Linked DNA regions of Homo sapiens: region 2 is linked to region 1. A link means that fine-mapping ties the variant in region 1 to the expression of a gene that starts in the linked region. Tissue or cell type: whole blood. Region 1 holds a variant in brackets; the other region holds the start of a gene. All regions are shown on one strand. Distances are from middle to middle.

What was found. PIP is the estimated chance that this variant, and not a neighbour inherited with it, causes the effect.
Region 2: ANXA9 starts here. The variant in region 1 is fine-mapped to the expression of ANXA9 in whole blood (TOPMed, PIP above 0.99).

What each region holds. Positions count from the first base shown.
Region 1 is chr1:151,084,050-151,092,309 of GRCh38, forward strand. GABPB2 (GA binding protein transcription factor subunit beta 2) reads left to right here. Exons shown (of 9, transcript NM_144618.3): 2 at 4,141-4,248; 3 at 6,357-6,524. The coding sequence starts at 4,141. Among named protein-coding and RNA genes, the nearest start is that of GABPB2, 17 kb to the left of the region's middle. The variant G/A (reference allele first, on the strand shown) is at 4,002.
Region 2 is chr1:150,979,239-150,987,238 of GRCh38, forward strand. ANXA9 (annexin A9) reads left to right here and starts at 3,054. Exons shown (of 14, transcript NM_003568.3): 1 at 3,054-3,141; 2 at 3,249-3,345; 3 at 3,852-3,942; 4 at 4,100-4,196; 5 at 4,737-4,831; 6 at 5,043-5,156; 7 at 5,348-5,438; 8 at 7,098-7,177; 9 at 7,364-7,423. The coding sequence starts at 3,868. LOC105371438 (a long non-coding RNA gene) reads right to left here and starts at 2,267. Exons shown (of 3, transcript XR_922135.3): 1 at 2,183-2,267; 2 at 1,966-2,075; 3 at 720-848. RefSeq lists an enhancer at 3,578-4,439.

The DNA.
Region 1 (8,260 bases):
TTATATATATAAAAAAATATATATATTTTTTTAATGTGGAAATGGGGCCTTACTGTGTTGCCCGGGGTAGTCGGGTAGTCTCTTACTCCTGGGCTGAAACTGCCCTCCCACTTCTGCCTCCCTAAATGCTGCAATTGCAGGCGTGAGCCACTGTGCCCAGCTGTTTTTTTTTGTTTGTTTGTTTTGTTTTTTGAGACGGAGTTTCACTCTTGTTGCTCAGGCTGGAGTGCAATGGCGGGATCTCGGCTCACCGCAACCTCCCTCCCGGTTCAAGTGATTCTCCTGCCTCAGCCTTCCTGAGTAGCTGGGATTACAGGCATGCGCCACCATGCCCGGCTAATTTTTTTTGTATTTTTAGTAGAGATGGGATTTCTCCATGTTGGTCAGGCTGGTCTCAAACTCCTGACGTCAGATGATCAGCCCGCCTTGACCTCCCAAAGTGCTGGGATTACAGTCATGAGCCACCGCGCCCGGCCCTAGCTGTTTTTTTTTTTTTTTTTTTTGAGACGGAGTCTCACTCTGTCGCCCAGGCTGGAGTGCAGTGGCGCAGTCTCGGCTCACTGCAAGCTCCGCCTCCCAGGTTCATGCCATTCTCCTGCCTCAGCCTCCCGAGTAGCTGGGATTACAGGTACCCGCCACCATGCCCAGCTAATTTTTTGTATCTTTAGTAGAGATGGGATTTCACCAGGTTAGCCAGGATGGTCTCGATCTCCTGACCTTGTGATCCGCCCGCCTCTGCCTCCCAAAGTGTTGGGATTACAGGTGTGAGCCACCGCGCCCAGCCAGCTGTTCATTTTTAAAAAACATACCTGCCATATACCTGAGCCCTTGGTCTATTCATCATTCCTTCATATAAAAGTGATGTTGCAGACTCTGTCTCTACAAAAAATTTAAAAAAAAATTAGCTGGGCATGGTGCCACTTGCCTGTAGTCTCAGCTACTTGGAAGGCTGAGATGGAATTGCTTGAGCCTAAGTGGTCAAATCTGCAGTGAGCTGTGATCACGGCACTGCACTTCAGCCTGGGTGACAGAGCAAGAACCCGTCTCAAAAATAATAAAATAAAATGGCCAGGCGCGGTGGCTCACACCTGTAATCCCAGCACTTTGGGAGGCCGAGGCAGGCAGATCATCTGAGGTCAGGAGTTCGAGACCAGCCTGACCAGCATGGCAAAACCCCTCTCTACTAAAAATAAAAAAATTAGCTGGGCATGGTGATGGGTGCCTGTAATTCCAGATACTTGGGAGGCTGAGGCAGGAGAATCGCTTGTACCTGGGAAGCAGAGGTTGCAGTGATCTGAAATCATGCCATTGCACTCCAGCCTGGGTGATGAGAGCAAAACTCTGTCTCAAAAATAAAATAATAAAATGATGTTCCATGATAAAAGCAGTTATTTATTTTATTTTTTTTTGAGACGGAGTCTCGCTCTGTTGCCCAGGCTGGAGTGCGGTGGCACAATCTCGGCTCACTGCAAGCTCCGCCTCCAGGGTTCACACCATTCTCCTGCCTCAGCCTCCTGAGTAGCTGGGACTACAGGCATCTGCCACCACACCTGGCTAATATATATATATATATTTTGTATTTTTAGTAGAGATGGAGTTTCACCGTGTTAGCCAGGATGGTCTTGATCTCCTGACCTCGTGATCTACCCGCCTGGGCCTCCCAAAGTACTGGGATTATAGGCGTGAGCCACTGCGCCTGGCCAAAAGCAGTTATTTTAGCTTGTAACTTAATCGTGTAGTGCTTTTTCTCAAGAAAACCATCATGTTTCAGTAAGCAGCAGAAGTATTTTATGTCGGATAGGCACAGTGGCTCATGCCTGTAATCCCAACACTTTGGGATTCTATTGCTATGGACAGATCATGCAGAATAGTGGGTACAATATAATTGTCATTTGGGCAAAAAGGTAGAGAAGAGGCTGGGTGTGGTGGCTCACGCCTGTAATCCCAACACTGGTGGGGCCAAGATGGGTCGATTGCTTGAGCCCAGGAGTTTGAGAACAGCCTGAACAATATTGTGAATCCCCATCTCTACAAAAAATACAAAAATTAGCTGGGCATGGTGGTGTGTGCTTGTAGTCCCAGCTACTCGGGAAGCTGAGATGGGAGGATCCCATGAGCCCAGGAGGTCAGGACTGCAGTGAGCTGTGATTGTGCCCACTGCACTCCAGCCTGGGTGACAGAGTGAAACCCTGTCTCAAAAAAAAAAAAGTGCTTTATGTATACTTCCCATTTTGTCACACATAAATTATAAACACATATATTCAGGTGTTGAGATTTAATACAATTAATAATTTTTGCTGTGTCATCCAGGACACTCCTAAGTAGAACTGGCAATTTTCCCTTGAGATTACATGGCAGTGAAGAATACAATAACCAATAGCACAGTTTGATTCATGCTAAGGCACCAGCAGTTATACCCACTGTTGGATTTGCACCGTTAGTGCTAATGTAAACATGGAAAAAGAAAAAAGGCAAATAATGTTTTTGTATTATAACAAAAATAGTTTTGACCTCATAGTTCCCTAAAAAGGCATCAGGGACCACCAGGGGTCCATAAACCATATTTGTTGAGCTACTGGCCTAACGAGATCAGTGTTTAATCAGTGAAAGCTTGTTCTTAATTTTTTTTTTTTTTTGAGTCAAGATCTGGCTCTGTTGCCCAGGCTAGAGTGCAGTGGTGCAATCTCAGCTCACTGCAACCTCCACCTCCTGAGCTCAAGTTTTCCTCCCACTTTAGCCTCCTGAGTAGCTGAGACTATAGGCACGTACCACCATGCCCAGCTAATTTTTGTATTTTTTTGTATATATATTTTTTATTTTTTCGAGATAGTGTCTCGCTCTGTCGCCCAGACTGGAGTGCAGTGGTGCGATCTCAGCTCATTGCAACATCCACCTCCCAGGTTCAAGCAATTGTCCTGCCTCAGCCTCCCAAGTAGCTGGGTCTACAGGCATGTGCCACCACGCCCGGCTAATTTTTGTATTTTTAGTAGAGACAGGGTTTCACTATGTCGGCCAGGCTGGTCTCAAACTCCTGACCTCAGGTGATCTGCCTGCCTTGGCCTCCCAAAGTGCTGGGATTACAGGCGTGAGCCACCGCGCCCAGCCAATTTTTGTATTTTTTGTGAGACGGTTTCGCCATTTTGCCTAGGCTGGTCTCAAACTCGTGAGCTCAAGTAATCCTCCTACTTTGACCTCCCAAAGTGCTGGGATTACAGTCCCAAGCCACTGCACCCCTCTTTGTCTCCTTAAATTTTAAGCATGATTATATGATTACACGATAGTCAGAAGATAAAAACTAGATTAAGATGTAGTTTGGGCCGGGCGCAGTGGCTCACGCCTGTAATCCCAACACTTTGGGAGGCTGAGGTGGGTGGATCACTTGAGGTCAGGAGTTCAAGACCAGCCTGGCCAACATGGTGAAACCCCATCTCTACTAAAAATACAAAAATTAGCCAGGCATGGTGGCGGGTGCCTGTAATCCCAGCTACTCAGGAGGCTTAGGCAGGAGAATTGCTTGAACCCGGGAGGCAGAGGTTGCACTGAGTCAAGATCACACCACTGCTCTCCAGCCTGAGCAATACAGCGAGACTTAGTCTCAAAAAAAAAGAGAGTTACAGTTTTATTTGGAAACCTTGATGTGTCCTGTTTCATTGTGCTATCCAAAGACCTACAAACCTCCAGAGAGAGCAGTTAGTTGCTAATAAGGGCTCTCATAATTTCCATCAAGCAGTAGTTTCACAGATGGGCATCCACCTTGCTCCCTTCCTGGAGATCAAAGTACATACTTTATTATTTTATATTATGTTCCTTAAAATAATATTGTACCCTTCTTCATTTCAGGGGAATGAAATGGTGTTTTATCGATTCCTTAAACTAGAAAGGTCGTAGTGTGTTGCAGATATTTCCAGAGTATTTTTCTGGGGATTGAAAGTGATAGAACTATGTATTAGGGCTTGAAACATTCCCAAATATTTTATTGTTTGTGTTAGACGAGGTAGAAA[G/A]GAAGTGACCTACCAGACAGTCAACTTGAGATGTATCTTATATACATTCAAATATAAGAAGTCTTCTAAAAAATGTATTGGCGGCTTTCCTTATGTTCGAGTTATAGCTACCTGAAAACTTTTGTTCCTATGCATAAAGATGTCTTTGGTGGACTTGGGAAAGAGGTTGCTAGAAGCAGCAAGAAAAGGCCAAGATGATGAAGTGAGAACGTTGATGGCAAATGGCGCCCCATTCACCACAGACTGGGTAAGCTTAGAGGAGAGGTCTCTTAATTATTTCCAATGTATGCTTTTACCAACATTTTTCTTAAAGGCTAACAGACTATTGGTTTTTCTTCACTCCCTTTCTACCTCATATCCCTTACAAGAGTTTTATTTTCTTTGTCTCATCTGAATATGTGGTTTTCTTTTTCTTTTAGTTTTCCAAATTGAGAGTCTCCTGTGGATATATAGGTGATAATTGTAAGGTATTATATACTTGTGATTTTCTATAATGTTTTTTAGAGTATTTTCTAAAGGTTTAACTGTCTCTGGAGTGTACTTGGGTTATAGGCTTCTGTAATTAGCTAGAAATTAAACAAAATCAATATAATAAGAATGCATTCCTAGACTAATAAATTCCTTGTTTCCTTTTCTCTAATATGCCCTGGTTAATAAGAAATTGTCTAGGCTGAGCGTGGTGGCTCACGCCTGTAATCCCAGCACTTTGGGAGTCCAAGGCGGGCGGATCACCTGAGGTCAGGAGTTCGAGACCAGCCTGCTAACATGGTGAAACCCGTTTCTACTAAAAATACAAAAAATTAGCTGGGCATGGTGGCGCACGCCTGTAATCCCAGCTACTTGAGAGGCTGAGGCAGGAGAATCGCGTGAACTCGGGAGGTGGAGGTTGCAGTGAGCGGAGATTGCACCATTGCACTACAGCTTGGAAACTCTGTTTCAAAAAAAAAAAAAGAAGTCATCTAGCTGTTTTGTTTCCTTTACCACTGTTCAAAAAACATTAAAGAGGAAGGTGTAATTTAGCCTCAACCATCTTGGAGACCAAAGACTTTCAGAAGAAACAGGTCCAAGTTATAATGTGGGCTTTCTTAGCAGTCACAGATTTTGTACACATTGCCTAATTTTAACAATTTCAATGAATGAGTGACCTCTATTCTGGACTGATTAATTGAGAGGCCAACAGATTATTAGCATTTCACAAAAAGAAAGAAAAGGAAACCCATGAAATTAGCATTTCTATAAATAGACCTGGAAAGAACAATGTGAATTAAATTCAGTCAGGCAGAGAGGCTAAATATATGAAAAAGCAAAGAATAAACTAAACAGGCTTAAAATAAAGAGCATAACAAAAAGAAGGGAATAGAGCTCTGGCCAAAGTGGATGCTGATAGATAACTCTTACAAGATTTACACTGGGATGACAGACTTACTTATTGCTGTTGATACATCATTGCTAAATTTTTATTGCGTCTTCATCTCATCATTCATTTTGCCCTGCTTTACTGTGGCAAAAAACTTTTCTTCCAGTCAGTCAAATTTGTACCTCAAATTCCACATGTAACTTTCTAGTCTCTACCCTTTTTCTTTTTTAAAATTTACTTTATTTATTTATTTTTTAATTTATTATGAGATAAGGTCTCTCTGTGTTGCCCAGGCTGGTCTTGATCTCTTGGGCTCAAGCAGTCCTCCTGCCTTGACCTCCCAAAGTGCTGGGATTGCAGGCATGAGCCACCACATCCAGCCTGATCCTTTTTTTGTTTGTTTTAACCTTCTAGACGTTGCGTAAAGTCACGTCCTTTAGGGAATCTTAACTGATAAATCCACCTGACATAAAGCCATTATACTTAGTACTTATTCAATTGGTGGTATATTTATTTGTCCATTAGCATGTTAATTTTTTTTTTTTTTTGAGACGGTGTTTCACTCTGTCGCCCAGGCTGGAGTGCAGTGGCACAATCTCAGCTCACTGCAACCTCTGCCTCCCAGGTTCAAAGCAATTCTCCCTGCCTCAGCCTCCTGAGTAGCTGGGATTACAGGTGCCCACCACCACGCCTGGCTAACTTTTTTTGTATTTTTTAGTTGAGACGGGGTTTCACCATGTTGGCCAGAAGAGTCTTGAACTCCTGACCTCAGGTGATCTGCCCACCCTGGCCTCCCAAAGTGCTAGGATTACAGGTGTGAGCCAGTGCACCTGGCCCCTGGCCTTTAATTTGTAAATTTAAGCATTTTTTCAGTTTTATCTGCCCAACCAGATTCTCTCTTGAAGGACAAGAACCATAGCTTGTTCATTTGTATCTCTCCAGTAACGATCTAGGACTCTGCACACAGTGGATATTCAATGAGCATTATTTTTCCACAGCTTGGAACATCACCCCTCCACCTTGCAGCTCAATATGGTCATTATTCCACAGCAGAAGTACTCCTTCGAGCAGGTGTTAGCAGGGATGCCCGGACTAAAGTAGACAGGACCCCCTTGCACATGGCTGCAGCCGATGGACATGCGCACATCGTGGAACTGCTTGTTCGGGTAAAGCAAGAATAGGGGCAAGGTTATGTTGTTAAAAAGGCATCCACTTTCCTGTTTTCTTACTTAAATGGGTACTAGGAAATGACTTGGGAATGATTAAGTTTAGGACAGTTATAGCATTAAGTTGCATCTCCAGGAGTCTTCATGGCAGGCCGGGTGCCTATAATCCCAGCACTTTGGGAGGCCGAGACGGGTGGATCACAAGGTCAGGAATTCGAGACCAGCCAGACCAACATGGTGAAACCCCATCGCTACTGAAAAAAAGCAAAAAAAAATTAGCAGGACGTGGTGGTGCGCGACTGTAATCGCAGCTACTCAGGAAGCTGAGGCAGGAGAATCGCTTGAACCTGGGAGGCGGAGGTTGTGGTGAGGCAAGATCACGCCACTGCACTCCAGCCTGGACAACAGAGCAAGAATCCGTCTCAAAACAAAACAAAACAAAACAAAAAAACAAAAAAACAAAAAAAAAAACCTTCATGGCTATGAGGAGTCTGTTTTCTTATTTATTTTTTGTTTGTTTGTTTGATTTTTGAGAAGGAGTCTTGCTCTTGTGGCCCAGGCTGAAGTGCAGTGGCACGATCTCTGCTCACCACAACCTCTGCCTCCTGGGTTGAAGTGATTCTCCTGCCTCAGCCTCCCGAGTAGCTGGGATTACAGGCGCCCGCCACTACACCCAGCCAATTTTTGTATTTTTAGTAGAGACGGGGTTTCACCATGTTGCCCAGGCTGGTCTCAAACTCCTGACCTCAGGTGATCCACCTGCCTTGGCCTCCCAAAGTGCTTGGATTACAGATGTGAGTCACCGCACCTGACTGTTTTCTAATTTATTAAAACAATTTTTTTTTTTTGAGATGAACTCTCAGCTGGGTGCGGTGGCTCACTCCTGTGTCTCAAAAAAAAAAAAAAAAAAAAAAAAAAAAAGATGAAGTCTCGCACTATCGCCCAGGCTCGAGTGCGGTGGCACAATCTTGGCTCATTGTAACCTTCGCCTCCTGGGTTCAAGCGATTCTCCTACCTCAGCCTCCCAAGTAGCTGTGATTACAGGCGCCCACCACCATGCTCAGCTAATTTTTTTTTGTATTTTTAGTAGAGATGGGGTTTCACTGTGTTGGCCAGGCTGGTCTCAAACTCCTGACCTTGTGATCTGCCTGCCTCGGACTCCCAAAGTGGTGGAATTATAGGTGTGAGCCACCACGCCCGGCCCTAAAACAATTTTTTAAATTTGAGACAGGGTCTCACTCTTTTGTCCTGGCTGGAGAGCAGTGGCATGATCATAGCTCACTGCAGTTTTCAACATCTGGGTTCAAGCAATCCTACTGCCTCAGCCTCCAAAGTAGCTGGGAGGACTACAGGCATGCAGCACCATGCCCAGCTAATTTATTTTTGTTTTTATTTTTTGTAGAGAATAGGGTCTCGTTGTATTGCCCAGCCCAGGCTGGCCTTGCACTCCTGGCCTCAAGCAATTCTCCTGCCTCAGCCTCCCAACACTGACAGGTGTGGGGTTACTGTGCCTAGCCAGTTTTCTAATTTTTTTTTTTTTTTTTTTTTTTTTGAGATGGAGTCTTGCTCTGTCGCCAGGCTGGAGTGCAGTGGCGCAATACTGGCTCACTGCAACCTCTGCCTCCCAGGTTCAAGCGATTCTCCTGCCTCAGCCTCCGGAGTAGCTGGGACTACAGGCGTGCTCCACCACACCCAGCTAATTTTTATATTTTTAGTAGAGATGGGGTTTAACCATG
Region 2 (8,000 bases), 100 kb before region 1:
TTCAGAGTTCAGCCTGGCATGCCGGCCAGGAGCCCCTTGGAGAGATTCGGCGTGAGGAAACAGGAGGCCTCACGCTTCCTTCGGTTCTCCCTAAATCTGCTGGGCAGGTAGCCAGAAGAAACTCTGAAGGGTACAGAAAGCCGAGGGCCAGGGGGACCCCGGCTGCGGAGCTGCAGTACCGTGTTTACCCAGCCTAACTGCGGTCACCCAGTCTCCTGCATGTGTCTGAGGTCAGCCTCGGGGGCTCCCCTGAGTAGGTATCTACCTGAGGCTCTTCCCCTGATGCTACCTGCATACCAATTCCACCCAGGAACCTGGCGTCCTCAGGAGGCTGCACTTCCCAAGTGGGCTGAGACAGCCCCTTAATATGTGGGGCTGGAGCCAGAGACCTCAAGGGGCCACTAGGGGGCTCGAGACTCTCAGTGGCTGCTGACGCCCTCTTGTGGCCATTTTGGGGATTGGCCAGAAAAGTTTCAGAAGCGAGCCAAGATCGGAATTCTTAAGGAGGTAAGTAATAACAACAGTAACAGTTACCATATAACAATACTTATCGTTATATATTTGATAACATTGTGACATTTCTACTTAACAGCGCTGTGCCCAGAACTCTTCTAAGTGCTTTATATGCACTGTAGTTATTTAATTCTCACAACAACCTATAACATAAACACTATTACTTGTCTGTTGATGATGAGGAAACTGAGCACAGAATAGTTGCCCAAGGTCACACAGAAGACCAGAATCCCGACTCTGAGAAGTCTGGCTCCAGAAGCTTTGCTTTTAGCCACCACGCTGAGACTGAGTTCCATTTTGGGGTTGTCAGGTGAAATACAGGACACACTGTTAAACTATAATTTCAGATAAACAAAAAATAATAATTACAGGCGGTGGCTCACGCCTGTAATCCCAGCACTTTGGGAGTCCAAGGCAGGTGGATCACGAGGTCAGGAGTTCGAGACCAGCCTGGCCAACATGGTGAAACCCTATCTCTACTAAGAATACAAAAAATTAGCCAGGCATGATGGCAGGCGCCTATAATCCCAGCTACTCGGGAGGCGGAGGCAGGAGAATCGCTTGAACCCGGGAGGTGGAGCTTGCAGTGAGCCAACATAATGCCACTGCACTCCAGCCTGGGCAACAGAGAGAGACTCCGCCTCAAAAAAAAAAATGTTAGTATATTTAATGAAATATTTGGGTCATACTTGTACCAACAAATGATTCCTCATTTACGTGAAATTCTGATTAAGCTGCATGTCCTGTATATTTATTTATTTAATCTAATACCCCTACTTTACAGGGCACTTTTCTCTGCCACATGCAATTACACAGATTACTTTTTTTTTTTTTTTTTTTTTTTGAGACGGAGTCTCACTCTGTCGCCCAGGCTGTGGAGTGCAGTGGCGCCATCTCAGCTCACTGCAACCTCTGCCTCCCAGGTTCAAGTGATTCTCCTGCCTCAGCCTCCCGAGTAGCTGGGATTACAGGCATGCGCCGCCATGCCCGGCTAATTTTTTGTATTTTTAGTAGAGACGGGGTTTCACTGTGTAAGCCAAGGCTGGTCTCGATCTCCTGCCTCATGATCCACCCGCCTCGGCCTCACAAAGTGCTGGGATTACAGGCATGAGCCACCGTGCCTGGCCACATTACCTTATTTATTTATTTATTTATTTATTTATTTTTATGAGTTCAATAGTTTTTGGGGACAAGGTGGTGTTTGGTTACATGGATAAGTTCTTTAGTGGACACATTACTTCATTTAATCATCCCAGGAAACCTGTCCTCGGAGGCCCCAGCATGTCCCACAGCCTCCGTCTCTCTCAATCCTCCCATTTAGAGAGCTGAAAGGACTAGCGAAGCTTACAGAACATAGGTGGCAGAGCTGGATATTGAACCCTCATTCTCCAGTTCTGACACAGGTGCATGTTTTCCTTTTAACAGGAGAGAAAAGTGAGGAGCAGTGATTACCGCCACAGAAATATCCTTTCATGGCGTGTCCTCCGGCATGGTCTACTCAGTGTGGTGGAGCCACTGCAGGTCCCTCCTCCAGGGATGTAGGAATGCCAGTGAAGGCCTTCCTGAGTTGGGAGAGAGGCAGAGGAGTGAGTGGAGGCAGGGCTGTAGCTTCTGTGCCCCGCCCCTACCCAGGCTCTCCAGGGAGGCAGGAAAGAGGCTGTGTTTAGACCTGAGGGAGCCAGCTGTGAGGCTGGAGCAGTTGCTGCATGGCGGGGCGGGGGCTCCACAGGGCTGTTCACCTGCTGCTCTGTGCAGAGACAGCCTCAAGTCCAGCTGCTGGGGTTGCATCACCTGCAGCTAAAACAGCCACAGGGCCCAGGCTGCCAAAAGGCAACAGAAGCAATCTAAGAAACCAGGCAAGGGAGCCTCCCCCATCTCCCTGTTGCCTTTTGGGAGCATAGAGCTTCCCTCTGAAGGTAACACCCTTTGCATTTTTCTCTCTTGACTCTGTTCATCAACTTCCACTCCCAAATACTTGTGCCCTTCCTTCTCCACAGATATACACAATCCCTGGGCACTCTCCACCTAGGTCAGCTGGCTCTAGTAAGGCAGCAGTCAAGGGAGTTTCTGGGCTGGGACCCCCTCTGGGGTGCAGGCTGGGGTGCCCTGCTGGTATGTGCCCCAACAGGTTTTTCCCTATCAGCCTTGAAATCAGCCTGCAGCCTGTCTGACCTGCCCCCCAGGGAGCTGGAGCCAGAGGCAGAGCCAGGTCAGAAGCTGGGGCAGAGCCAGGTCAGAAGCTGGACTTTGAGACTAGGTCTCTGTGGTCCCACCTGGACCCACAGGGAAGGCAGTGCATAAAAGCCTCCTGTGTTTGAGGCTGAGCCGCTGAGAGGCTGAGTGGAGTTCACTCACATGGATTGAGGCCCAGTTCCTGGGAGAAGAGATGCTGGGCAGGAAGGTGTCTGCATGTGGGACTCTGTACAGCCCGGTCCTCTCCCACGTCTGGGAGGGGCCAGAGTCAGACAACTGCTGGGTTCGTCCCTAAGAGAGGTCATCTGACTGGCTGTTCAGCCTAGGCTGCACACACCCCCACTTTCCTCTACCAGGCCACACCGGAGGCAGTGCTCACACAGGCAAGCTACCAGGCCACAACAACGACACCCACCTCACCTCTGGCACCTCTGAGTAAGTACTGGGCCCACGGCCCCATGCCAGGAGGGCTTGTTGATTGCTTGGGGGAGGGAAAAATGAGTTTTCCTTTTCCAACATGAGAGTGCCTCCTTTCTGTCCAGGCATCCACGTACTTGCAAGAACTCTTGCTCACATCAGCTAAGAGATTGCACCTGCTGACCTAGAGATTCCGGCCTGTGCTCCTGTGCTGCTGAGCAGGTAGGCAGCTGTACAGGCAGGAATTGAGGGTTGCTTGTCAGCTGGGGCTGCCGGTGGGGGAAGATGCTATTTCGAGTTGTCTTCCACTCTGCGTGGTTAATCCTGCCACCTCACCTCAGCTCCCCTGCACTGCCCAGGAGACCCCAGCCAGGCCCAGGAAGGAGGGCCATAGACCTCAGAAGGGAGGCATCTACCGCGGACCAAGGCCTGAGGAGCTTTGGTGCTGACCCTGGCATCAGGGAGGGTTGGCGCCTGGTCCAGGAGCATTCCGCATCAATCCCCACTTCCTAAAGGAGTGGGGAGAGGTGGGGAAGGTGGGGGCTCCCCTCTTACCTCACCATTTCAGCTCCATTTCTGGCTCCAAGCCTAAGCAGGTTGATCTTTTTTTCTGCAGCAAGGAAAGGAACAGGTGACTGGAACCCAGGGTCCAGGGTCTCGGGGGGGTCATAAGGAGTCCCTGAAGGGCCAGGAAATTCAGCTCTGTGGGCTCCTGTTTCCTTCCCCAGGGCAACCAGTAGCACCATGTCTGTGACTGGCGGGAAGATGGCACCGTCCCTCACCCAGGAGATCCTCAGCCACCTGGGCCTGGCCAGCAAGGTAGGGGCTGTTGGGATTTTAGAGATCACTTTTAGTATCTCAGCTCGGGCTGTGAGAGGATGGGAGGCAGGAAAGTGGAGGACAGGCCCTGAGGTTATGCTGAGGAGGTGTAGGCAGCCTGGCCCTGGCCCTTGCCAACTACCCTGTGCTCCCACAGACTGCAGCGTGGGGGACCCTGGGCACCCTCAGGACCTTCTTGAACTTCAGCGTGGACAAGGATGCGCAGAGGCTACTGAGGGCCATTACTGGCCAAGGTGAGCCCCTTTCCCCCGGCACTTGAGACTGCCTTTTAGAGCCAATCTGTAGACCAAGGAGGAGCCAGGAAGGAGGAACTAGTGATGTTGGAGAAATGTTTGTGGAATGCCTTCATTCTTGTATGTCAGGCGCCACAGTAGGTGTGTCAAACCCATTCTCACAACACCCCTGTGAGGCAAGGCTTATTATTTCCATTTTCCAGATGAGGAAACTGGGGCTCAGGGAGATTAAGAGGCTTGCCCAAGGTCACTCAGCTCATGACGGAGGTGGTATTCTCATCTAGGTCAGCCGATCCCCCCAAGTCGTATTTTTTTTTAACCACCACACCAGGCCACCTTTGCCTTGGTCTGGGTCAGATTTGCATGCTGTTTTGACATTTTATTTGCAACTTCTTTTGAGATAAAATGGAAGTGGGGGTGATATAGCCCCTGCTCCTTTCCTTCCCAGCCCTCTCCTGGAGCGCCTTCCCTCCTCCAAGGAGTAGGAACATCCCACTATGTAAAGACCCTGCTCACAGCACAGCCCTCATCTCGGTTCAGGCGTGGACCGCAGTGCCATTGTGGACGTGCTGACCAACCGGAGCAGAGAGCAAAGGCAGCTCATCTCACGAAACTTCCAGGAGCGCACCCAACAGGTGAGGCCATGCTGACCTCCCACAGCAGTGGACTGGGGTGAGAAACCCCCTGGAGGACTCGAGAGACAGCAACAGCCGCTGAGGCCAGCCCCTGCTTCCTGGCTAAACAGGGCCTGAGATGAAAACCAGCCAAATCTTCCCAAACCTCCCCACACTTCTGGGGCCCTTCCCCTCACCCCCGTCCCTCTGCTGTGAGGACCATTTATTGTAGGACCTGATGAAGTCTCTACAGGCAGCACTTTCCGGCAACCTGGAGAGGATTGTGATGGCTCTGCTGCAGCCCACAGCCCAGTTTGACGCCCAGGAATTGAGGACAGCTCTGAAGGTAGCAGGAGGGGAGACTTGCTGGGGTGTCTGGGGAAGGGAGAAGGCTGTCAGCCTTGCTTTTGCAAGACGAGAGTCCCCCTCTCGTCGTCCCATATTGTTTCTTAGAAGGAGAAGCAGCCAGCGTCTGCCCCTCTGTCTGCCATCCTAATGACACGGCCAGTCTGAGAGTAGACTCCCAATTTCTTGTAGGCCTCAGATTCTGCTGTGGACGTGGCCATTGAAATTCTTGCCACTCGAACCCCACCCCAGCTGCAGGAGTGCCTGGCAGTCTACAAACACAGTAAGAATATAGAGGGAGGGGTCCCAGATGCTGGAGAAGGGGCTGTAGGACAGGCCACTCCTCTCCTGTACTCCCCATAGGTGAGCTATCTGGCAACCTGGCTGCCTAAGTTCTATTCCCTTGGGGTCTTTCCTCTTGCCCCCACCAGTGCCTCAGTCTCTCAGGGGAGAGACCCAGATGTGATCATTAAAAAAAGAGAAGCAGGCCAGGTACGGTGACTCATGCCTGTCACCCCAACACTTTGGGAGGCTGAGGTGGGCAGGTCACTTGAGCCCAGGAGTTCAAGACCAGTCACAGGCAATAAAGGAAAACCTCATCTGTGCTAAAAATTCAAAAAAACCAGCTGGTCATGGTGGTGTGCGCCTGTGGTCCCAGCTACTCAGGAGTTTGAGGTGGGAGGATCACCCCAGCTTGGGAAGTTGAGGCTGCAGTGAGCTGAGATCGTGCCACTGCCACTGCACACCAGCCTGGGTGACAGGAGTGAGAGCATGTCTCTCTCTCTCTCTCTCTCTCTCACACACACACACACACACACACACACACAAATAAAGAGAGAGAAGCAATGATTAACCATCTTAATCTGGAGCTCCAAGGCAGATTCCAAAGTGACAGTCCCAAAGGTACTCATGTCACCTTCCCAGCCCCTTGCCATCCCTGCCATCACACCACATTCCAAGCTGAACCCAGCCATGCTGCAGCCTGAGGAAAAGGTGGGAATCTGCCCTCTGAGTCATGGGTGTCACCTTTCATGTCCCTGATGGCTGGCCTTGCTTGGCTACAAGTGTCTCACCCACTAATTTGTGGCTTTTTCCCATCCTCATCTTACCACCCCTTCCCCCCACCCCTACCTCTTTTTCTTGCTTTCCCCAATTTTCCTTTGATGTCTAATCTTGGCCTATGTTCTTCTTTTGAGACAAGGTCTTGCCCTGTAGCCTAGGCTGTGCAGTGATGTCATCATGGCTCACTGCAGCCTTGACCCTTCTGGGCTCAATCAGTCCTCCCACCTCAGCCTCCTAAGTAGCTGGGACTACAGGTGTGCCACCACCATGCCCAGCTAAATTTTGTATTTTTTGTAGAGATGGGGTTTCGCTGTGTTGTCCAGGCTGGTCTCGAACTTCTGGGCTCAAGCCATCTCCTGCCTCAGCCTCTGAAAGTGCTGGGATTACAAGCATGAGCCACCGCCCTGGCCGTGGCCTATGTTCTTAATCCCTCTCCTACCTTCCTTCCTTCTTGCATCTGTTTCCCTTTTCTCTTTCTTTTTCTCCCTTTCCTGCTCTTTTCCTTCCTCATATCCCACCTCTCATATCATTTTTCCTTACCTCCAATGAGGGTGCCAGGTCCTAACCATCTTGTGTTATAATACGGGTTTCCCTAGCTCTTCTTCACTGCCTGGCCCCAACTCTAATAATGGTTGCCTCCTGCCCAGCAGGTTGGTGCTTGGTGATGAAGCCACTGCACACCTCACAACTTAGAGATGTTTTTAGAGTGGCCGTGATGGTACTTGTGCCTTACATCCTGGGAATTAGCAGCCATCAAGCTACTCCAAGCAGGGGCTAGCAGGGCTGGCAGGGTATAGCGGGTCAGGCATTTGGCAGGTCCTGGGGATATCTACACTAGGAAAACTCAGGAGGATTCAGAGAGCTCCTCACCCCACCCCAGATTTCCAGGTGGAGGCTGTGGATGACATCACATCTGAGACCAGTGGCATCTTGCAGGACCTGCTGTTGGCCCTGGCCAAGGTGAGGAGGACTGACCTGCAAGGAAGGGAGTCACGTTCACCAGGCAAGGAGACACGCTGGAGCAGGGAGCATTGCTGTCCTGTAATGGACAAGAGAGGGCTTTAGGGGAGACCAGCCTTCGCTTGTTGGTCTGAAGATAAAAAGGTGCCCTTCAAAGAGCCCTCTAAGAACAGTTTCTCCTCCTAGGGGGGCCGTGACAGCTACTCTGGAATCATTGACTATAATCTGGCAGAACAAGATGTCCAGGTGAGCAGGGGGTTTAGGAGTGTGCACAGCCGCCATGCACATAAGATGCCTTCCTCCACCATATCTTAGAGCCGGTGACCTACGTGCCCATTTTTCCCGCAAACCCATCCCTGCCTTGGAGAGGGAGTTCTCAGTTATGTGGTAGGGGCAGGAGGTGTCAGGTAGCGTCATAGCTGAAGCCTTTTCACTCATCTAGCCTCTGACTCCTGAGCTCATCAACTGACATATTCTCCTCTCATGAGCGTTTGGGGGCAGAAAGCCTCCTCAGACCTTTTGGGGATTATTTAATCCTCGGGTACCAGGATTTTTCCAAATCAGTGAATAGAGCTGTGAGGCTGTAAGGGCAGAGCCCTCTCTTAGCCCTATTTCTTTCTTAAAAAATAAAAAACATAAGATAAAAAAACATAAATAAAAACAACTAGTAGGCCAGGCATGGTGGCTTATACCTGTAATCCCAGCACTTTGGGAGGCTGAAACAAGAGGATCACTTGAGCCCAGGAGTCCAAGACCAGCCTAGGCAACATAGTGAGACTCTATCTCCACAAAATATTTTTAAAAATTAGCTGCACCTGTAGTT